Homo sapiens: one gene and its partners. The protein of the gene in region 1 purifies or fractionates together with the protein of each later gene. This does not show direct contact. Each region holds a gene or a part of one and is shown in the gene's direction. Other genes may lie near its edges.

What was found.
Region 2: the proteins of PPP2R5D (region 1) and PPP4C purify together in Homo sapiens (affinity purification with mass spectrometry; 7 studies listed by BioGRID and IntAct, with this or other methods). This does not show direct contact.
Region 3: the proteins of PPP2R5D (region 1) and PPP2CB purify together in Homo sapiens (affinity purification with mass spectrometry; 10 studies listed by BioGRID and IntAct, with this or other methods). This does not show direct contact.

The regions. Positions count from the first base shown.
Region 1 is NC_000006.12:42,980,158-42,987,845, forward strand, and holds the start of PPP2R5D (serine/threonine-protein phosphatase 2A 56 kDa regulatory subunit delta isoform), read left to right. Parts: upstream 1-4,412; 5' UTR 4,413-4,520; coding exon 4,521-4,547; intron 4,548-7,688. UniProt on the Homo sapiens protein: The B regulatory subunit might modulate substrate selectivity and catalytic activity, and might also direct the localization of the catalytic enzyme to a particular subcellular compartment.
Region 2 is NC_000016.10:30,071,602-30,079,286, forward strand, and holds the start of PPP4C (serine/threonine-protein phosphatase 4 catalytic subunit), read left to right. Parts: upstream 1-4,392; 5' UTR 4,393-4,493; exon of another isoform or gene 4,494-4,499; intron 4,500-4,713; 5' UTR 4,714-4,776; coding exon 4,777-4,874; intron 4,875-7,685. UniProt on the Homo sapiens protein: Protein phosphatase that is involved in many processes such as microtubule organization at centrosomes, maturation of spliceosomal snRNPs, apoptosis, DNA repair, tumor necrosis factor (TNF)-alpha signaling, activation of c-Jun N-terminal kinase MAPK8, regulation of histone acetylation, DNA damage checkpoint signaling, NF-kappa-B activation and cell migration.
Region 3 is NC_000008.11:30,809,526-30,817,195, reverse strand, and holds the start of PPP2CB (serine/threonine-protein phosphatase 2A catalytic subunit beta isoform), read left to right. Parts: upstream 1-4,377; 5' UTR 4,378-4,774; coding exon 4,775-4,876; intron 4,877-7,670.

The DNA.
Region 1 (7,688 bases):
CATTGCAGCTTCTACCGTCCCAGGCTCAAGTGATCTCCCACCTCAGCCTCCCGAGTAACTGTAGCCGGGACCACAGGCACACGCCACCATACCCAGCCAATTTTTTTTTTGAGACGGAGTTTCGGTCTTGTTGCCCAGGCCAGAGTGCAATGGCACGATCTCAGCTCACTGCAATCTCCGCTTCCCAGGTTCAAAGAATCTCCTGCCCCAGCCTCCCAAGTAGCTGAGATTACAGGTGTGTGCCACCACACCCAGCTAATGTTGTATTTTCAGTAGAGACGGGGTTTCACCCTGTTGGTCAGGCTGGTCTCGAACTCCTGGCTTCAAGTGAGCCACCTGCTTACGCCTCCCAAAGTGCTGGGATTACAGGCATGAGCCACTGCGCCTGGACTAATTTTTTATTTTTTGTAGAGACAGAGTTTCTCTGTGTTGCCTAGGCTGGTCTCAAACTCCTGGTCTGAAGAGATCCTCAGGCCTCAGCCTCCCAAAGTGCTGGGACTACAGGCATAAGCCATCATGTCCCACTGCATTTCCAATTATTAACAATTATTTTCACTTACAATAAATGAATTGGATGGTGCCAATCTCCATTTTCTAGACCTTACATTCTCTTTCAGCTACTGCTCAGCTTTCTCCATCTCTCCTTTCTTCTTGAGGCAGTCTTCTATTTTGTACATTATACATTCCTGAAAATTTGAAAGACAAATATATGAAAACTATTAGATTTGCATATTATAAGGGGCTGGGCGCAGTGGCTCATGGCTGTAATCCCAGCACTTTGGGAGGCCAAGTGGGTGGACTGCTTGAGGCCAGGAGTTTGAGACCAGCCTGGCCAACATGGTGAAACCCCGTCTCTACTAAAAATACAAAAATTAGCTGGGTATGGTGGTGTGTGCCTGTAGTCCCAGCTACTCGGGAGGCTGAGGCAGGAGAATGGCGTGAAGCCGGGAGACAGAGCTTGCAGTGAGCCGAGACTGCGCCACTGCACTCCAGCCTGGGTGACAGAGTGAGATTCCGTCTCAAAAAAATAAATAATAGAAAAAAATAAATAAAATAGCATGCAAGAATGTACTAACCAGGAACCATGGCTTGTGTCTATAATCCCAGCTATGGGGAGGCTGAGGCAGAAGGATCACTTGAACCCAGGAATTTGAGGCTATGATTGTGCCACTGCACTCCAAGTGGGTGACAGAGCAAGACCTTGTCTCTTAAAATATATAAAATTAAAAGAAAAAAAAACTAAATAAAGAATGTTCTAGGTACCTAGATTCACATGGATGAAAGTTCCCATTTGGTAGTGCTACTATATGTTTCTTGGTCCCCTATGTCCCAGAGGAACCAAGGGCTAGATAGATGGTACATGGGCCTAAAGAGGATATGCCTGCTTTCCTCAGTAGCAGGCAAGCTCTAGGCCTCAGGACTATAGTGCTCCTTGAGGCCTTGGAGATGGGTAAAAACATCAGTTATCTTGCCTGGATCAGCACTCATACAGACACAAATACCCACCCACAAATAAATGTCCTTTTCTCCCAAGCTTTTCTCCCAGCAGGTAACAGCGGGCATGTAGTCCACTTTGTGTTACCCTGAAATCGTCATTAGTCACCGAAAGCCAAATACTACTTCTGTAAGATCGCCAGGACCCTACATTTGCCATCTTCACTTCCTCACCTCTTGATGCTCACTCTTCCACTCACTAAAAACGGTCTTCCACTCTCTGAAAAAATCACCCATAATCTTCTAATTGCAGAATCAAGATGATGCTGTTCTTTCTCTGACACTACTGACCAATTGTCTTTTATTTCCTTTGCCATTATGACACCAGTTGTCCTCCTACAACTCTGATCACTTCCAGAAATCATCCTCAACTCTTCCCTTTCCGTTACCGTCCCCCCCACAATACAATGAATCACCATATCCTGTTGATTCTACACATTTTCATGCTCCATCCTCTCTTCTCCATCCCCACGGCCACTGTCTTGTAACATTGCTCTCCTGGGTACCTGGGTAAGGGACACAGGTTTTGTGTTTTTTTTTTTTTTTTTCAGATGGAGTCTTGCCCTGTCGCCCAGGCTGGAATGCAATGGTGCGATCTCGGCTCACTGCAAACTCCACCTCCCGGGTTCAATGGATTATCCTGCCTCAGCCTCCTGAGTAGCTGGGATTACAGGCACCCACCGTCATGCCTGGCTAATTTTTGTATTTTTGTAGAGACGGGGTTTTGCCATGTTGGCCAGGCTGGTCCTGAACTCCTGACCTCAGGTGATCCGCCCTCCTCAGTCTCCCAAAGTGCTGGGATTACAGGCGTGAGCCACTGCGCCTGACCTTTTTTTTTTTTAAGACTAAATATTTTATTTTATATAGAATTTTAAAAATTTATTTTTTGTACATGAATAAGTTCTTTAGTGGTGATTTATGAGATTTTGATGCAGCCATCACCCAAGCAGTGTATACTGTACCCAATGTGTAGTATTTTTTTTTTTTTTTGAGACGGAGTCTTGCTCTGTCGCCCAGGCTGGAGTGCAGTGGCATGATCTAGGCTCACTGCAACCTCTGCCTCCCGGGTTCACGCCATTCTCCTGCCTCAGCCTCCCGGGTAGCTGGGACTACAGGCGCCTGCCACCACGCCCGGCTATTTTTTTGTATTATTTTAGTAGAGACGGGGTTTCATCGTGTTATCCAGGATGGTCTCGATCTCCTGACCTCGTGATCCGCCCGCCTCGGCCTCCTAAAGTGCTGGGATTACGGGCGTGAGCCACCGCGCCCGGCCTCCATTGTATCATTCTCATGCCTTTGCATCACAGGTTTCTTCTTTTTTTTTTGTAGACGGAGTCTTGCTCTGTCGCCCAGGCTGGAGCGCAGTGGCATGATCTCGGCTCACTGCAACCTCCACCTACCGGGGTCAAGTAATTCTCCTGCCTCAGCCTCCTACCGGGTTCAAGTGATTCTCCTGCTTCAGTCTCCCGAGTAGCTGGGACTACAGGCGCGCGCCACCACGCCCCGCTAATTTTTGTATTTTTCATAGAGGCATGGTTTCACCATGTTGGCCGGGATGGCCTCGATCTCTTGACTCGTGATCCGCCCACCTCGGCCTCCCAAAGTGCTGGGATTACAGGCGTGAGCCACCGCACCCTGTCTAATTTTTGTATTTTTAGTAGAAATGGGGTTTCACCACTATGGTCAGGCTGGTCTCAAACTCCTGACCTCGTGATCTGCCCACTTTGGTCTCCCAAAGTGTTGGGACTACAGGCGTGAGCCACCGAGCCTGGCCACAGGTTTATTCTTTTTGTCGTCATTGTTGCTGTTTTGAGACAGAGTCTTGCTCTGTCGCCCAGGCTGGAGTGCAGTGGTGTGATCTCGGCTCACTGCAACCTCCGTCTCCCGGGTTCAAGTGATTCTCCTGCCTCAGCCTCCCGAGTAGCTGGGATTACAGGCGTGCACCACCACACCCAGCTAATTTTTGTATTTTTAATAGAGACGGGGTTTCGCCATGTTGGCCAGGCTGGTCTCGAACCTCTGACCTCAGGTGATCCTCCTGCCTCAGCCTCCCAAAGTGTTGGGATTACAGGCGTGAGACACCGTGCCTGCCTGGTTTACATTCTCTCTTAATCCTTTGTTTATACACATCTGTGATTCACCAGACTGCGAACTCTTTGTGGGCATAAACTGAGTCTTACCCATTAGAACACGGACTTGAGCAGGGTGGCAAGTAAGGGATGGATTTCCTGAGACAGTCAACAATGAAGTTGCTTTTCCACTGCGTTCCCAACTGCTCAAATCTAGCTGGTTCCCCAATCCCAGTACACTTGCAGTAGCAACGGGGACCCTCTTCCTAAAGTTGCACCAAGCCAGGGATTCTCCACTCATTTCGCCCAGGTCCTAGCCCTGCCAGGCTTCCCCTTTGCTCCTCTGCAACCCCTGTCTAGGGAGGCGGGTGTCTTGGAAGGTCCTTGGGAGCTCCCTCCATCAATTTTGCATCTGCAATTAGGGCTACTTTACCCCAGTGAAGAAAGGTGCCCTCCGTATTAGGGCTTCCTTCCTCCAATTCCGACTGGACAGGGTAGCAGAGCGGGCAAAGTGTGAGAGCCTTTAGAAGGAAAGAGCAGGGCTCCAAGCGCCGCGAAGAATGGCCGAGGCCGACGCACAGCAGACGCTGGAGTGCAGCCCTCCTAGCCAAGCTTGGGTTTCCCCTTATCCCCGCCTCCTTCTCTAAGCTCGACCCACTTTAGGGCGGGACCACCCACTTCAGCCAATTCTGGAAGCCGAACCCTGGCGGTTTGTACTATTTCTTTCCAATAAGAAAAAAAGGAAGCAGCTTGGCTCCAATGACCAATCCGAGGAGGCGGCGCCTGGTTGTCAGGCAGTTTTGTAGGAGTTCGGGCCAATTGGAGGCGCAGGCACCGCTCGACCCGGGCGCAGCGCGCAGGCGGTGGCGAAGAGACGCCGAGCGGGCCGAGTGCGGCCGAGCAAAGCCGGAGCCGGAGCGGGGCCGCAGGAGACGGGCCGGGTCCGGACGGGCCGAGATGCCCTATAAACTGAAAAAGGAGAAGGTGAGCGTGGCCCTTTTTCCCCCACCGCCGCCTTGGAGCCTGCGCGGAGCTCTGGGAGGGGCCGGAGCCAGGCCCGGGACAGCCCCAGACTGACCCTCCCGTCCAGCCCCCGCAGGACTCCTGGGGCCAGCCCTCCGCCCCCGCGGCTGGCAGCACCCCCAGCTTGTGCCGCAGCTAGGACAGCTCCCCCACCTTGCCCCGGAGAGACTCCCCCCACATACACCTCCCTCCCTTCTTCCCTTCTCTTACCCCCGGCCCAGGGTAACCTCCTTCTTCCAGATCTGCCCCATTCCCAGGTCACTGTCCTGCTTTTTCTGTCCCCCCCATCACCCCTGGCCCCGATCCCCCTTCGGTTTGGGCAGCCCCTCATCTGAAACTGCACCTTCCTCCAGAATTGCCCCCTCGCCCCGCCCTGAGCAGCCCCTTGTCTCCTCTTCCTACCCGCCTGGGACAGCCGCCCCGCAGTCCCCTACGGCCCCTTCTCTTTCCATGCCAAGCCCCTGACCTAGAACAGCGCTGCTTTCTCTCTCCTCCACCCAAATCTGGCCTAGGCCCCTCCCTCTAGTTCTTCCTTCACACACAAACTTGTAAGCAGGACTGAGCCCTTCTGTTGATGGAACCTCACAACGTTGGTGCTGGAAGGGACCTCTGAGCGCATGCAGTGCAATCCCTAATGGTACAGATGAGGAGACTGAGGCCCCGACAGGGCAAGGGACTTGTCCAAGGTCACACAGCCTGCTGGAGGCCCAGCTGCAATATCAGGTCTCCTGACTTAAAGGCCTCTTTTGTATCAAAGCCCTCCTAACTGTCACCCAAGTGCATCCTAGACCAGTCACCTTTCCTAATCTGAGTAGGCTCCTCACCCTTATTCTTAATCCTAGGATAACCTTTGCATTTTTCCTTTTTTTTTTTCTTTTCGCACCAGTGCTGGATTTCTGCCTTTCCTAAGCTACACCATCTTCAAATTGGGAATTTGTCCTCACTGTCAGATTATTGTTCCTTCTTAGCCTGCAGGCCAGCCACCCCTGAACACCCATGTCTTTATCATGATGTCCTGACACAGGCCATTTCTTTTTTTTTTTTTTTTTTTGAGATGGAATTTTGCTCTTGTTGCCCAGGCTGGAGTGCAATGGCGCGATCTCGGCTCACCACAACCTCTGCCTTCTAGCTTCAAGCGATTCTCCTGCCTCAGCCTCCCAAGTAGCTGGAATTACAGGCATGCGCCACCACATCCGGCTAATTTTGTATTTTTAGTAGAGACGGGGTTTCTCCATGTTGATCAGGCTGGTCTTGAACTCCTGACCTCAGGTGATCTGACCCCCTCGGCCTCCCAAAGTGCTGGGATTACAGGTGTGAGCCACCGTGCCTGGCCCACAGGCCAGTTCTTAATGTTGCCTTCTTTCACCTTCCTCATCTACCTCGGTGCTGCCTTCCCCTGCTCCTCATCCGTGCCTTTTTCTACCCTCTGTTTCCTGCTGTTGCTGAGGTCTGACTCAGAGGTGTGGTTCCTTTGAGGTACAGACTCACACATAGGATGCTAGGATACCAGTTCCAGCCTCCCCCAGCTTCTCCTCTCCTGGGGCTGGCCCTTTTTGGTGGGGGTTGGCTCTGGCCTGGTGTTCTGGCCACCTGCTCGATGACCCCAGAGGTATATTGCTTTCATTTGCCCTCTGATTGGCTGGGTTACTGGGCTGCCATCTCTGACCTTTTCAATCAAACTTTTTCTCCTGGGGCTGTTCTGTATTTGCCAGGCAGCTCTGATTCTGAGTTGTCCCCTTAACCTTTCAGGGCCTGAGGTTCTAAGTACAGGGTTGGTGATGGTGTACTAGATAGTGAGCCTCCTGGGAGTAGTGAGCTGGACAGGGTTTTGTGCCCCACCCAGGCCCTGTCCTTGGGGAGTGGGCATGCGGAGGTGGTTTGGGTAGCTCAGTCGTAGACAATGCACACAGAAATCAGCCACAACAGGGGCTAAGGGAAATGGAATTCGGGGAAAGCTGGTGAGGTCCCCACCCATTTGTAATTTTTAGTCTGTTGGACTAGATACTGTCCCATCCACAGAAAGCAATAGCCTACTAGATTGTGAAGAAGACAAATTGCCAGTGAGATTTGCTAGGACCATGGGTGTAAACGTTTGGTTGGGAAAGGGTGTTGGAAGTAACGGGGTGCATGGAGCCAGGCATAACTCTCACCTCCCTATAAGGTTTTTCTGCTCTTGATTTTCAGTTGCATTTGGCCTTCTTCAATGGTTGGCAGGCTCTAAGGGGCAGGGGGGTTGCCAGTGTGACTGAGGTTTGTCTGGATGGCTGTGGGTGGAGGATCTTTATTGCTCATCTATGACCTGTCCCCTCTCTCCTGGCCATCTTTCACAGCTTCCTCTCTAAAGCCTTTCTGAGCCCTCAGTCAGGAGTGAACTCTCCTTTCTTTTCTGGATTTGCAGAACACTTAGTAGGCCACTTATGGTCCTTTTGTGTTTGGCCTTGGATGGGAATTAATTGTGGACAAGACTTTTCTTCCCCTTTGAGATAATAACTAAGTTTCATTTTGGTTTGACAACTCCTTTTCACACGGTAAGTACGTGCTTAGTGGATAGGTGCTAAGATAATCTCTTGGAGGGATTCGCATCTCTCCTCTTCCTTCATGTTCTCCTCTGGGACTTACCTCTTTTATTTTCCTGAGTAGGGTGCCCCTGCCCCCTCCGATTTTTTTCTTGTTCATAATAATAGTAATAACATTGACCAGCACTACGGTTTTCATGTGCCTTAACACTGTGCTGAGGGAAGAGGGTATTATGATTGTCATCATCTAATAGATGAGGAAACTGAGGCTCAGAGAGGCTAGTTAACTTGCCTGTGATTACACAGCCAGTAAGAGTTGGGCCCAAAACACAGGGCTGAGTCCAAACATGTTCTTTTAACCTCTGTGCTACACAGCATTTGACTACTGAGCTGGGCTGAAATGTGTGTGCTTCACCTGTTCTGCAGGAGCCAGGGAGCAAGGGTGGTAGGCCTGGTTCCTCCATGCCCACTCACACCCACACACTAAGGCAGCTGGATCTCTCTTAGGCTCATTCTTTGAAAGATACGTCTGAGGCATCATGCTGAGTGCTGTAGGGTGGGTGGAGGGGTACAAAAAAGAATAAGC
Region 2 (7,685 bases), on another chromosome or scaffold:
TTGGGCTGTGGAATCCCATAAAAACCTTGAATTGTTTCCAATACCCCCTTGGTAATGCAGATACAGAAGTTAAGCTGTAGAGCTCAGGCTCCAGGTGAAGAACTGTGTCTCTGTAGCTGCTGCTTTCCATGAAGCTAGAATGAGCGTGCCATGCCATTACTTTGAGCCTTTCCCCAATGACCCAGGCTGGGGTGTACAGTAACTACATCAGCTCTCTGGACCTAGAGAATCTCTGCAGTGATTCAGGTAGAACGGAGTTACCTAGAACCTTCTAGGAGTATAAAAACTTGGTCCTAGGCCGGGTGCGGTGGCTGACGCCTATAATCCCATCATTTTGGGAGACCAAGGTGGGCGGATCATGAGGTCAGGAGTTTGAGACCAGCCTGGACAACATAGTGAAACCTTGTGTCTACTAAAAATACAAAAATTAGCCGGGCATAGTGGCGCACACCTGTAGTTTCAACTACTTGGGAGGCGGAGGCAGGAGAATTGCTTGAACCCAGGAGGCAGAGGTAATGGTGAGCCGAGATTGTGCCACTGCACTCCAGCCTAGGCAACAGAGCCAGACTCCGTCCCAAAAAATAAAAATAAAACTTGGTCCTTCCCTTTTCTGCTTATTTTGCTTTTATTGCTTACATCTAAAACAAAACCAATCACTATTATCCCTCTAAACTTTGGATTAATTTGTCTGCCTAGCTCATTCAACTCTGGGAAACAAACACTGAAGTAAAGCAAATAAAAATTGAAGGTCGGTAGAAGATGGCAAAGGGGGCATTCCAAAAGGGAACATGTGCAGAGTCTCAGAGACTGGAGAGATTGTTTAAAGATCAATAGTTTCAGCCGGGCACGGTGGCTCACAACTGTAATCCTAGCACTTTGGGAGGCTAAGTCCGGCGGATCACGAGGTCAGGAGTTCAAGACCAGCCTAGCCAATGTGGTGAAACCCCCGTCTCCACTAATAATACAAAAATTAGCTGGGCATGGTGGCGCGCGCCTGTAGTCCCAGCTACTCGGGAGACTGAGGCAAGAAGAGTCGCTTGAATCTAGGAGGTGGAGGTTGCGCTGAGCCAAGATTGTGCCACCACACTCCATCCTGGGCAACAGAGCGAGACTCCGTCTCAAAAAAAAAAAAATAAAAAAGACTAGAGAAGCAGAGAACGTCATATACCAGTTTGGGGGATTTGGACTTTTATTTATTTATTTATTTTGAGACGAAGTCTCGCTCTGTAGCCCAGGCCGGAGGGCAGTGGCACGATCTGGGCTCACTGCAACCTCTGCCTCCCGGGTTCAAACCGATTATCCTGCCTCAGCCTCTCCAGAGTAGCTGGGATTACAGGTGCACGCTACTGCACCCGGCTAATTTTTTGTATTTTTAGTAGAGACGGGGTTTCACCATGTTGGCCAGGCTGGTCTTGAACCCCCAATCTCAGGTAATCCGCCTGCCTTGGCCTCCCAAAGTGCTAAGATTACAGGCGTGAGCCACCATGCCTGGCCTGGACCTCTTAATTTTATGATAATCTGAGTTCCCGAAAGAGTAATTGATAGAAAAAAAAACTACACCTGAGGACACAACTTTCTGAGTTCAAATTTCTTTTTTTTTGAGACAGCATTTCACTCTGTTGTCCAAGCTGGAGTGCGGTGTCACAATTTCGGCTCACTGCAACCCCCGCCTCCTGGGTTCAAGCGATTCTCCTGCCTCAGCCTCCCAGGTAGCTGGGACTACAAGCGCATCACCAAACCTAATTATTATTATTTTTTATTTTTTAGGATAGACAGGGTTTCACCATGTTGGTCAGGCTGATCTTGAATTCCTGACCTCAGGTGATCCACCTGCCTCGGCTGCCCAAAGTGCTGGGATTACAGGTGTGAGCCACCACACACAGCCAGGTTCAAATTTCTTTCTTTTTTTTTTTTGAGACAGAGTCTCGCTCTGTTGCCCAGGCTGGAGTCCAGTGACGCAATCTTGGCTCGCTGCACGCTCTGCCTCCTGGGTTCACGCCATTCTCCTGCCTCAGCCTCCCAAGTAGCTGGGACTACAGGCGCCCGCCACCACGCCCAGCTATTTTTTTGTATTTTTAGTAGAGACGGGGTTTCACTATGTTAGCCAGGATGGTCTCGATCTCCTGATCTCGTGATCCGCCCGCCTCAGCCTCCCAAAGTGCTGGGATTACAGGCGTCAGCCACCGCGCCCAGCCCAAGTTTCTTATTCTTTTTGTTTATAGACTGGGTCTCACTCTGTTGCCCAGCCTGGTCTTGAACTCCTGGGCTTAAGTGATTCGCCTCGGCCTCCCAAAGTGCTGGGATTACATGCTTGAGCCACCACACCTAGCCCCGGATTCAAATTTCAGTGTAACATCCCCAATCCACTGTTATACAAGCAATGAACAAGTTATTTAACCCCTCTGAGCCAGTTTCCTCCTCTTAAAAAAGGCACAAAACTTAATAGAAAGCAACTAAGAAGCCAGGCACGGTGGCTCAAGCTGGTAATCCCAGCACTTTCCGAGGCCGAGGAGAGTGGATCACCTGAGGTCAGGAGTTCGAGACCAGCCTGACCAAAATGGTGAAACCCCGTCTCTATTAAAAATGCAAAAATTAGCTGGGCGTGGTGACGGGTGCTTGTAATCCCAGCTACTCAGGTGGCTGAGGCAGGAGAATTGCTTGAACCCAGGAGGCGGAGGTTGCGGTTTGCCAAAATCGCTCCACTGCACTCCCGCCTGGGCGACAAGAGCAAGGAAGGCTCTGTCTTAAAAAAATAAATAAATGAAAATACAAAAATTAGCCAGGCGTCGTGGCACATGCCTGTAATCCCAGCTACTTGGGAGGCTGAGGCAGGAGAATCGCTTGAACCTGGGAGGCGGAGGTTGCAGTGAGCCGAGATTGTGCCACTGCACTCCAGTCGGGGTGAAAAAGCAAGACTCCGTCTCAAAAAAAAAAAAAAAAAAAAAAAAAGAGGCCGGGCACGGTGGTACACGCCTGTGGTACAGCACTTTGGGAGGCTGAGGCAGGTGGATCATGAGGTCAGGAGATCGAGACCATCCTGGCTAACACGGTGAAACCCCGTCTCCACTAAAAAATACAAAAAAATTAGCCGGGCCTGGTGGCGGGCGCCTGTAGTCCCAGCTATTCAGGAGGCAGAGGCAAGAGAATGGCGTGAACCCGGGAGGCGGAGCTTGCAGTGAGCCGAGATGGCGCCACTGGACTGCAGCCTGGGCGACAGAGCGAGAGAGTGAGACTCTGTCTCAAAAAGAAAAACGGAAGCAACTAAGAAATGTCAAGAGTGCCATTTTGGAATCAGAGAAGTCATGCTGACTGAGGCACAGGCTTGGCGTGGGAAAAGTGGACTCCAATCTGTTAACTTCTGAAGTTGTCCACGGCAAATATTTCTCTGACGGCACAGGAAGAGATCTGAACTTGGCTTCCCTCATCCATTGAACAAGTATTAACAAGTATCTATATATGCCTACCGTGCCAGGCCTTATTCTAACCACTGGGGCTGCAATATTTAAAAAGACAAAGTTGGATCCTCCAAGGACTGTGGTGGGGAAGGCTGACAAAACAAGTAACAAAAATGTGTAACATTAAAAAAAAAGTGTAATGTTAAAAAAAAAAAGTGTAATAAAGTTACAAAGCCTAGCCCCAGCTCGGCTTGTTTCCCTAGCTGAAATGGGGGATGGCCGGGCGCGGTGGCTCACGCCTGTAATCCCAGCACTTTGGGAGGCCCGAGGCGGGAAGATAGCTTGTGCCCAGGAGTTCGAGGTCACAGTGACCTATGATAGCCCCACCGACTCCAGCCTGAGCGATAGAGCGAGACCCTGTCTCTAATTTAGAAAAAAGAAAGTTGTGGCCGGGCGCGGTGGCTCACGCCTGTAATCCCAGCACTTTGGGAGGCCGAAGGGTGGTGGTGGGTGGGGGCGCGGATCACCTGAGGTAGGGAGTTAGAGACCAGCCTGACCAACATGGAGAAACCCCGTCTCTATTAAAAATACAAAATTAGCCCAGCGTGGTAGCGCATGCCTGTAATCCCAGCTACTCAGGAGGCTGAGGCAGGAGAATTGCTGGAACCCGGGAGGCGGAAGTTGCGGTGAGCCGAGTTCGTGCCATTGCACCCCGGCCTGGGCAACAGCAAAACTCCGTCTCAAAAAAAGAAAAGACAGTTGTTTAAACATTTTTATGAAATGATATGGGAGGGGACTGGTCTAGGGTTTCTAATAGCCTCCACATCGCCCAGCGGCAGAGCCCACAAAACTGCCACTGGCCGCCACCGGGTTCCTCCACCTCCTTCCCGATCTCAGGCTGGAGAAGTGGTGCAGGGGTCGCTGCGAAAGGAGAGGAGCGTGTATGACGCCACATCCGGCGCGCGGCGGAACTGGCCTCCTTTGCTTCCGCGGCGGGGCCGGAAGTAGGAGCGGCGGCGGCGGCGGCGGCGGCGGTCGAAAGCGGAGTGAAAGAGGGAGGCAGGGAGCCGGAGAGCCGGAACCGGAGTCGCAGCGGCGGTAATAGTGCGAGACTCCTCTAAGTCACCGTCCTTAGCGCGGGACCGCGGGGTTCGACGGGAGTTAGCGGGGGTGCGGCCAGGCCGTTGGACGCCGGGGGGTCCTGGGGCCGATGTGAGGGGAGGCGGGGGTGGGGGAGCCGGGCCGGCTCTAGAATCGAGTTGTCCGCTCCGAGCCCCGGACGGACACTGATCCGCGGGCTCGTCTTGGCCTTTCCCAGGAGACCCCTGTGCGGTGCGGAGGGGGCGGCGGCCCCGACTCTGACCCGCGCCGGGGGTGGGCCATGGCGGAGATCAGCGACCTGGACCGGCAGATCGAGCAGCTGCGTCGCTGCGAGCTCATCAAGGAGAGCGAAGTCAAGGCCCTGTGCGCTAAGGCCAGGTGAGCTCGTTGGCCCTGGGGAAGGGAGGCCAAGCCGCCGCCCACGGGTTCTGGCCTGGGGCAAACCCAACTGAGAACTTTGGGCTTGCCTCGTTCTGGAAGCTTTCCCAGAGAGGAGCAGGATGGAGCCGCTGCCCTCGAGGAAAAGCTAGCCTGCTCGGGGAAGACAGAGTGGATAAAGACACTTAAAGTTTATTAGACGATGTGTTTCCAGTGGAGTAAGAGTGTTACATAAAGTACTTAGGAAACTCAAGGAAACAAGTCCATCTGTCGGGGGACGGAAGCTTGTTGGAGGGGGGCCGAACTGTGGGAGAGGCCTCGAATAAGGAGGTGGTAAAAGAGTCAGCCAAAAACCAAAAGTTTAAGACAGGAAAGTTAAAGACCCTGTGATTTATAAAAGTCTTCTAATTACAACAACCCTTAAAGATTGGTGGTATTGTACTCATTTTACAGGTGGGAACTTTCATGTTCAAAGTTACCCACAAGTAAGGAATGGGGTCTGAAGCCAGCTCTTAGTGTCCTGTCCTTTTTCAGGCCATAATGCAAAAAGGTGGAGTTGGATCATTCACGTTCAGGGTGGGAGCCTGAGAAATCGTAGCAAGTAAGCCAGGGTAGAATTAAGCACGATAGGGAGGCCAGTTCAGAGTTCTGTGGGAAGTAGGATGATGTAGTGGTTAAGGCTCTAGGTTTTGCAGTGTGAGATGGCTCTAGGTTTGAATCTGAACTCTGCCGCTTTCTAGCTGTGTTAGTAATCTTAAGTGTCTTTATTTGTAAAGCAGAATTAATAGTACTTAATAAGATGATTGTGAAGATTCAGTGAGTTGGTGCTGGAGATGAGGTTAGCACAGTGTTTTGGTACAGCATACGTGCTTGATAATCACCAGGTATTCTATTTCTTTTGGAAGAGGGCAATAATGAGATGGGCTAAAGCCATCAGGGAGGGCTTTTGAGTGGAGGTAGGCCTTGAAGGATGAAGATAATTTGGCTAGCTGATGGAGGCAGGGCCAGTGAGGGAAGGGCATTCCAAGCAGGACGAATGTAACAGTGGAGGCCCTGAGATGCGTGGGGAACAGTCAGGGGTTTAATTACCTGCCTCCTCTGGGGAACTGTGTGATTGTGGCTTCTACCAGGCTGGAGAATTGTGGCAGAAGAGCCCACAGAATTACCCTACGTTTATTGAACAGTAAACATTGGCCTTTACAGGGCCACTATTTGGCCTGGCCCGGTACTGGCAAAAAACTTCTATCCATCTCTTCCCCCCAGCAATCCTATGAGGTTGGAATCATTTGCTGCATTTTATCGAATAGGAAGCCATGACTCGTAGAGGTCTGGTGACTTAACTGAGGTCACCCACTGAGGACGTGGCAGAGCTGGGTCCTGAATCTGTGGCCCTCAGGCTCTTTGCCTGGCCCTGCCTCACATAGACTACCTGCAGCCAGACAGGGCCTGTGAGGGGATGATGAGCAGGGTCGGCCTCTTTTTCGCCACCTGTCTGTGGCTTTTCTCTTTTGCCAGCTGACCAGACCAGCCCCATGGTGTTTTTAGTTGTCCCCTTTCCCTCAGTCCTGATTGGCATTTTTAGGAACTTAAACCTGTTGTTGCCTGGCACTATTCTTTAACCTCGAAGTATTGTCTCCCTCACGGGCCCTGGATCAGTGTGGTGGTGATGGTAGACAAAGCTTAGATAGCATGCTGGAGTTTGCAGAATAGCAGGAAGTCGTATATTCAGTCTCCATGGCTCCTTGCAACAGCCTAAGGAATACGCAGGGTGGGCTGAGTACTTAGCCCCATTTCATAGCAGAGGAAACTGAGCCTTTGAGTAGATAATGTCTTGCCCAACATCACGCAGCTAGTCGGAGGGGAAGTTAGTTTTGCATCCAGGTCTTTGACTGTGCTCCGTGGTCACTGAGAGCCAGGCAGAGGCATTTAGATTTTGATGTGGGGTGTGAGGCAGCAGGAAGCCATGGAAGGCTGAGGGGTGGAGGGTCCTGCCCAGTTGAAACTGAGTGGAACTAGGAGGTACTAGGCCAAGGCCTGAGTTGGCCGCTGTTGTCCCAGGCTCAGTCTGAAGCAGGGCCATCTCTGATACCTGGTTATGGCCTCCTGGGGACCCATCAGAGACCCAGGCTGAGGCTGGTGGTGTCAAGAGCACCAGCTTGCCTAGAGGGCACAGACATGCAGATGAAACCAGTGGAAGCACAGAGGTCCGCAGTGTCTGAGCTGAAATTGCTGCTACTAGAAATATTAGCACAGTAGGAGAGCTGAGCTTTTGAATCAGGTGGTCTTCAGTATGAATCTTTGCCTTGTCACCTAGAAGCAATATGACCCTCGTCAAGTCACTTTCTGATTTTTTGAAGTGATAATGACATGCAGTTGAGAGTCCGGGTATCCGGGCACAGGGCCTGCTGCGCTGGTAGCCGTTACTGCAGGCAGGTCCTGATAGGGCTGGGGAAGTGCTGCAAGTGGCAGAACTGGGGCTGGAATCTGGGCCTGATTCCCAGGCCACACTGGGGTTGCGCTGGCACTGAGGGGGGCTTTGCAGAGAGCACGGGCCCTGCATGTGACCTCCCTGGGCTTCAGGTTTTCACTCAGGGTCTGTGGAAGGGGCTGGCATAAATTCTCAGGAAATTGGGCTTCTGGGTTCCAATTTAGCCACTCTCCAGCTTGGTGACCTTGACCCTCCCGCTTTTCTGTAAGCTTTGGTTTCTTTTTTTCTTTTTTTTTTTTTTTGAGACAGAGTTTTGCTGTTGTTGCCCAGGCTGGAGTGCCAGTGGCCTGATCTTGGCTCACTGCAACCTCCACCTCCTAGGT
Region 3 (7,670 bases), on another chromosome or scaffold:
TGTTCAAGCTGCCAACTCATATATACTAGAAGACAAACCACTATGAGTAAGAGTCAGTGGAAACAAGAAAAACGTCTTCCGTCACTTAAAAATTGTCAGATACACAACATAGAATATCTGAGTATAAAAATGTTTAAAGATATAGAGGAATCCACTTTTGTAGTGTTGTAGTAAGAAATTTGAACCAACCCTTTTACTGAGGTCAGCAAAGGACAAAATGTTCAACATAGCATCTGCTCTGATTCCTTTGCCTTTCAATAATTCCATCTCTTGTTTGATAAATTTGAAAAGGTTTTTTAGAACTACGTTTTTGGGCAGAAGGGTGAGAATAGAGGATGAGAACTATGATCTTTTTATTGATCATGATTTGTTGTTTTTAAATGCAAAGAAAGCATTTCCAATTTGATTTTTTCTATATTAATTTTAATTTTTGTAATCATTATCAATAGATATTCTTATGCAGAATTCCCTGTGACAATTTTGATAATATCATATTCACATTCTAAGTATCAGAAGGTATTTGAACTGGAAATGAAAGTATTTCTTTAATCATTTGAGGATTACAGTGATATAGGAGAATCATTTTTAGACCCATACAATGTATAATTGTAGCATATAATTATGTGGATACATTACAAGATATAAATGATTCATATTTCATATTTTAAATGGTATATAATACATTAGGAAAAATATCAATGTTTATATATTTTAAAAGAGCCTAGTCAATTAAGTAGGAAGAAAATCTCACATGTACTTTTAAGGCAAATAATCTGTGGAAGATTTCTTTTTAATTATTTAACCAAAAGGAGAGAGGTAAACAGAATAACAATAAGAAAACCTCTAGGTCAAAAAAGAAAATTAGATCTGGCCTATAAACCTAAGATTAAATGCAGTTTGGCATGACAAGTAATTTAGCAAGGATTGGAGGTTGATGGTTATGTTCTGAAGGAGAACACACACACACAGACACACACACAAACACACACGTCTGACAGAAGCAGAAAGCAAAAAAGAAATAAGTTTAAGAATTATTGTTCTTCCAGACTGGCCCACATGTTGAAACCCTGTCTTTACTAAAAATACAAAAATTAGCCGGGTGGTAGTGGCATGCACCTGTAATCCCAGCTACTTGGGAGGCTGAGGCAGGAGAATCGCTTGAGCCTGGGAGGTGGAGGTTGCAGTGAGCCAAGATCGTACCACTGTGCTCCAGTCTGGGTGGCAGAGTGAGACCCTATCTCAAAAAAAAAAAAAAAAAAGAATTATTGTTCTTATTTATAATTAAGAGACCGTCACAACCAAAATAGCAAAAACTGATATTGTAAGTCATCAAGCCCCTTGGCCAATCTACCATTCTTGGGCTTTCCATGTTCCCATCCACACTGCAGGGACCATAGAACATAAAGCATGGAGTAGAACTCATATGTGAGTGTTAATCTGTACCCCACCAGTACTATCTGTGTGACTTGAACATGTATTTAAACCTCTACCTGTCTTTCTTTTCATCTGTAATATGGAAAGTATAATAACACCAGCCTCATGAGGTTACTGGAGCATTAAATGAGAAGCTACATGTAAAAACATTAGTATATAGGAACTACTCAAAGAAAGTATTCTTCTTTGTTCTACATCACTACTTGACTAAACTTCTTAGAAGTACTATTTTCACAAACACCTACTCACCTCTAAGAATATTCTCTCACATTCATTTCAAACACATTTGCTTCTATTTCAAGGACCTCCCTCCCTAACTACCATCCACAGTTCCCACTTGCCCTCAGGGTATATTTTGTTTTCAGTCCATCTTCTCTAGGAACCCTGAACATATTCTCATTCTCACTTTTGTTCCGAGCTTTCCAAGCTTAGCCGAAAATCAGCTTCCTTTTTTATGTATGTATTGAGACAGGATCTCACTTGTTGCCCAGGCTGGAGTTACGGTGGTGCAATCTTGGCTCACTGCAACTTCCGCCTCCTGGGCTCAAATGATCCTCCCACCTCAGCCTCCTGAGTAGCTGGGACTACAGGCATGCGCCACCATGCCCGGCTAATTTTCCGTAGAGACAGGGTTTCACCATATTGCCCAGGCTGGTCTTGAACTCCTGAGCTCAAGTGATCCTCCCACCTCAGCCTCCTAAGGGCTAGGATTACAGGTGTGAGCCACTGCACCTGGCCCAGCCTCCTTTAAAGCCTTATAGACTAACCTCCTCAGAGAATGTAATATCTATTGCAATGATATCTCACCAGTATTGTTTCATCACCTTTTGTGTTTTGTTCAACTGGTTTGCTGCTATTTACAAGCTGTTGAGAGCAGGAGCTCTTCCAGCCTTATTTCCAACAATATAATCTATTTCTGTTGCTAGGAGAATTTATAGCTTTCCAAACAGACAATGAATGGTCTTTCACTCATTTGTCTACTGGCACACGCACAAAAAAATTCCTTAGACCTTCTTTCCTCTTCTCCAGGCAACTTCAAGCTTTTGCCTTGAGAGAAGGTTGAAAATTCAGTTCAATTACCGCTTTTCTAAAGCTTTCTGTAATTGTTCCCTAGGAGGGGTAAGGCAACTAACATATCGCTCCCATACCGTACTATTGGGCAGGCACTTTTAAAACTTAATCTTCACAAAGGTAGGCCTTTTATTGATTTTAACAGATGAAGAATTTGAGGCTTACGGAGGTTTGATGATTGCCCAAGGACATAGCTAGGGGGTTAGCAAACACAAGAACCCTTGCTTTCTGATACAGGATGTTACCTTCCACTTGGGTTCAGCCGCAGTAGTATGTACCTTTAATAGACACAGTATGATCATTTAGCACATGCTATTCAAGGTATCTGGCAGCTAGCAGCTGCTCATGTTACCTAACTGAATTTAGGTCCTCCCTCAAGTACGGCAAAGCCAAACACTGACATTGGGGTTTGTAGTGAAAGTGAGGCATTTATTGCATTGCACCAAGCAAGAAGAATCAGGCAGCTCATGCTTAAGACCCCAACTCCCTGATGGTTTACAGGTAAGGGGTTTTTTGTGTGCTTTTTTTTTTTTTTTTGAAACAGAGTTTCACTCTTGTCACCCATGCTGGAGTGCAATGGCGAGATTTCGGCTCACTGCAACCTCCACCTCCCGATTTCAAGTGATTCATCTGCCTCAGCCTCCCAAGTAGCCGGGATTACAGGCGCCCACCACCATGCCCAGCTAGTTTTTGTATTTTTAGTAGAGAAGGGGTTTCACCATGTTGGCAGGCTGGTCTCCAACTCCTGGCCTCGGCCTCCCAAAGTGCTGGGATTACAGGCATGAGCCACTGCGCCCAGCCCAGGTAAGGATTTTTAAAGGCAGGGAGGCAGAGGTTACAGGCAAAGTCATAAATCAATACATGGAGGCTATACGTGGGTTTGATCTAAAAAGCCAGGATATCTGAAGCAGGGACCCACAGGTCATAGATGGATTCAAAGATTTTCTGATTTGCAATTGGTTAAGGAGGCAAAGCTTTGTGAATTCTTCCAGGCTCCTCAGGAAGAAATTTAGAACAAAGATAGGTAGTTTGAGATCTCCATGCCAGTGGACACCATTTTCCATTTGGTGAGGTCCAGGTTTCTGAAAAACAACTCAGGGACATATGTCGTCTTTAGTTTCTATAGGGAAGCAAACATTTTGTGAATCTAACGTCCTTGGCTACTGTCTTAAGCTATTATTACCTTCTTGCTTATCAGGTTGCTCATTGACTTATTGAGGAAGTTAGGTGCCTGGAATGTCCCTTCAGGGAACTCAAGATTTTCCTTTATTTCCATGCTTGGGGAGGGGGGTGCCTAGATGGCCCCTAAGAGGGGTCCCTGTTCTGTCTCTCAATAAATATTTGTTGAATGAACAAATCATTACAACTCAGTACACATTGCAGAAAATATAGCCAAGAGCTCTGGAGCTGGAAGGGCCACAGATTATCCTACAGAACAATCATTTCACTTTTCTAATGTCGAAAGGGAGGATTCGAGATGTTAGGGGCTACAGGTGAGGCTGGAAATAATTAATTTACTCCATCAATATTGAATGCCTGCTATTGAGTGCTAGACTCTGGGGAGACAATGTTAAGGGAAGCCCAAGTTTTCCAACTCCCTGTCCAGAGCGCTGCAAAGTACTGCAGGAAGCTAAAGTGAGGACAAAGTTCCCAGAGATCAGGATATTTAAAGGGAGAACCAGCAGAGCTTGGTCTGGGGCAGGGTGGGGAAAAGAGGGACCCTGGCCTCCTCGGACCGTTTCTCCGCCAAGCCACGCGAGGGCGCTGTTCTGCTCCTAGGGCGCCGTGTCCCGGCGGCGCCGCCTGCTCGCCTTTTCCCGGCGGAAATGCCCGAGCGATGACGGAAACCCGGAGGGAGGGGAGAGAAAGAGCGAGAGAAGGGGAAAGACAAGTCGGGAGAGGCCGGTAGGCGTGAGGCGGGCCTGAAGCGGCAGCGGGCGGCCTTCGTCCGGCGAGAGCTAGGCCGAGGACCCGCGCCGCGCTCCCCGGCACCTCACCGCGTCCTTCACCGACTCCCGCGGCGCGCGGCCGGGCGGGGAAGGGCGGGCGGGGGTCTCCTCCAGGCTGCGCGCTCGGAGCCGCCTGCTGGGCTTGGGCGGGGCGCGGGGCCCGCGGCCGCCCTACCCGGCTCAGTCCTCCCCCTGTGGGACCTGGCGACGGCGGCGGAGGGAGAGGGGAGCGGCGCCCGGGCCGGGGCCGGGGGCGGGTGGGGAGGGGGGAGGGCGGCGGCCGGGCTGGGGCTCGGGATCCGCATCGGGATCGGGCCGCCATGGACGACAAGGCGTTCACCAAGGAGCTGGACCAGTGGGTCGAGCAGCTGAACGAGTGTAAGCAGCTGAACGAGAACCAAGTGCGGACGCTGTGCGAGAAGGTGAGGGCGCCGCGGGGGCGAGTGCGGGAGCGCGGGGCTGGGACGGGCCGCCGCTTTCCTGCCCGCCCCGGTCCCGTCCGCCCCTGGCCCGGCGCGGCCCACCGGGGGCCTGCGGGGCTGTGGGTCCGGCTCCGGCGTCCACCTAGGCGGCCGGCCCATCGGTTCAGGGCCCGGGGCGTTGGGCTGCCCTCGCCTGCCCCTTCCACCTCCGCCTCACGCCCCCGGCCGGCTGCCCAGATCCCGGGCGTGGGGGGCTCGGGTGCGGACGGGCGGGGAAACGTAGCCCCCTGAGCCAAGCAGGAGGTTGGTCGGGGTCGCCTGCGCTCCACTGGGGAGTTCCTGCCACTCTAGCATTTCCCGAGTGGACTAGCGAGAGCGACGTCCGAAAAGGACCATTTTCAGACCAGTTTCTGAAAATGCAACTAAAATTAACCAGAATGTCGTGCGTATTAATGAACTTGTTAATAAATGCAGAATTTTTGTCAGGTGAACGGGGCACCTCAGAAATCACTAACTCAAGCCGGGCGTGGTGGCTCACGCCTGTGGCCACAGCTACTCGGGAGGCTGAAGCGGGAGGATTGCTTGAGCCCAGGAGTTAGAGACCAGCCTGGGCAACATAGTGAGGCCCCGTCTCCACACACAAAAAATTTTTTTTAATTAGCAGGGTGTGACGGCGGGTGCCTGTAATCCCAGCTATTCGGGAGGCTGAGGCGGGAGGATCGCTTGAGCCCAGGAGGTGGAGGCTGGTTGCAGTGAGTCGAGATCGCGCCACTGCACTCCAGCCTGGGCGACAGCAAAAAAAAAAAAAAAAAAATCGCTGATTCTTGAATGTGCCAAGCGTTTGTTTGCGGAGAGGTAGGCGTGATGGCCAACTGTGATTTTTAAAATAGAGGTTGACTTTGGTGGAAACAGATGGTGACTGGTCTTTGTGTTGAGTGGCTCTTGGAAGTAAAGTGTTGATTTTCAGAAACGAGAGCCGATCTTAAGTTTGGGAACAGTGTTTGCTGGAAATGATAAGTGGGATGTGTGTTTTCATGCACGATAGCACTTTGCAGAAAGTTATTTTTGTTTTTAATATATATAAAGTTTTTTTCCAAAGAATAATAAAACATGCGGGTGATCAGTTCGTTCTTGTACATCGTGAGTGTGTGATCTTCACTTTGTAAATTCTGTATCCATTGTTTTCTTAACCCCTGAAATTATTTCGATCTCTCCATCTTTGAAGTCTAGAGTTGTCCACATTCATCCTTTACAAGGTGGACTAAATAATTTTCATGTATTTTTAGGTTAAAAATTCTCACTTGAAGTGCATGAAGAAGTAACGATGTTATTTTAAAACGTAATCTATAAAATTTTCTTAACCGTAATGTTTAGAAGTCATGATGTGGCAGAAGTGCACTGGAGAAGGAAAGATTTTGTTAGTCTGATTTTAGGGTACTCTTAAGATCATGAAATTTACTTAGAAAAGGAGCACTAATAGATGGTGTTAAGTTACAATATTTTTAACGGGTGTAATGTTGGTCGGGGCCTTTGTGTATTAAGTAACTATTTGTTAACACAGGAGGATTTATTTTTGTAAATAGAAGTGCCAAGCAAGTGGTATTTTTCTCTTTCTGAAACAAACTGCTTACTTGTGGCTTCAGTTGACATTCATTTTTATTGTGATAACCTGTAATTTCATGAGTCTTAAAATTTATGCCTTAAACATCTCTCTCCAGCTCTAATGCGAAGTGAAATGTACAGGTTTGAAATGATCTGAGTCAGTTAACCTGACTATGAGCATCAGAATACAGACTTGAAGTTATGGGTAAAGTGTTAGTTGAATCAGTTTTTCCCATTGACTTCCTTTTTTTGTTTTATTTTTGTTTTGAGACAGAGGCTCAGTCTGTCGCCCAGACTGGAGCGCAGTGGTGCCGTCTCTGTTCACTGCAACCTCCACCTCCGGGGTTCGAGGGATCCTCCTGCCTCAGCCTCCCGAGTAACTGGGATTACAGGTGCATGCAGCCATGCACTGCTAATTTTTGTATTTCTAGTAGAGATGGGGTTTTGCCATGCTGGCCAGGCTGGTCTAGAACTCCTGGCCTGAAGTGATCCCTCAGCCTTCCAAAGTGCTGGGATTACAGGCGCGAGCCTCGTGCACAGCCCCTATTGACTTTCTAATAATTTTAAGATGAACTTCTAGAGAAGAATATTGTACCACTGCTGTACTTTGAAATAATCACACCGGAGTGTCAACGATCACTTGAGGAAGCTTTCTGTATTTGTCAAAAGAGATTATTTTTACTTCGGCTCCTAAATAAATCAGACTAACAGTTCCTAGGACTTCACAGGTATATTTAAGATTATCTCTTGTATCTTACTAGCCTTTTTTGGGGGCGGGGGGGGGACGCAGTCTTGGTGTGTCAGTCAGGCTGGAGTGCAGTGGGGCAATCACCGCTCACTGCAACCTCAACTTCTGGGGCATAAGGGACCCTCCCACTTCAGCCTCTCAAGTAGCTGGGACCACAGGCATGTGTCACCACACCGGGATAATTTTTTTATTTTTTTTATGGGGTCTCACCGTGTTGCCCAGGCTGGTCTCGAACTCTCGGGCTCAAGTGATCCTCCCGCCTTGGCCTCCCAAAGTGCAGGGATTGCGGGAGTGAGCCACCACTCCTAGCCCATTTTTTTTTCTTTGAATATTTGTCCTTACCCACAAAGCATGAATTTGTTAGTGAAATTCATTCATCTTTGTTCTCTACCCCCATTGATGGAGTTGCCAATGGGTTGGAAAAGTGTGATAATACTCATTTCT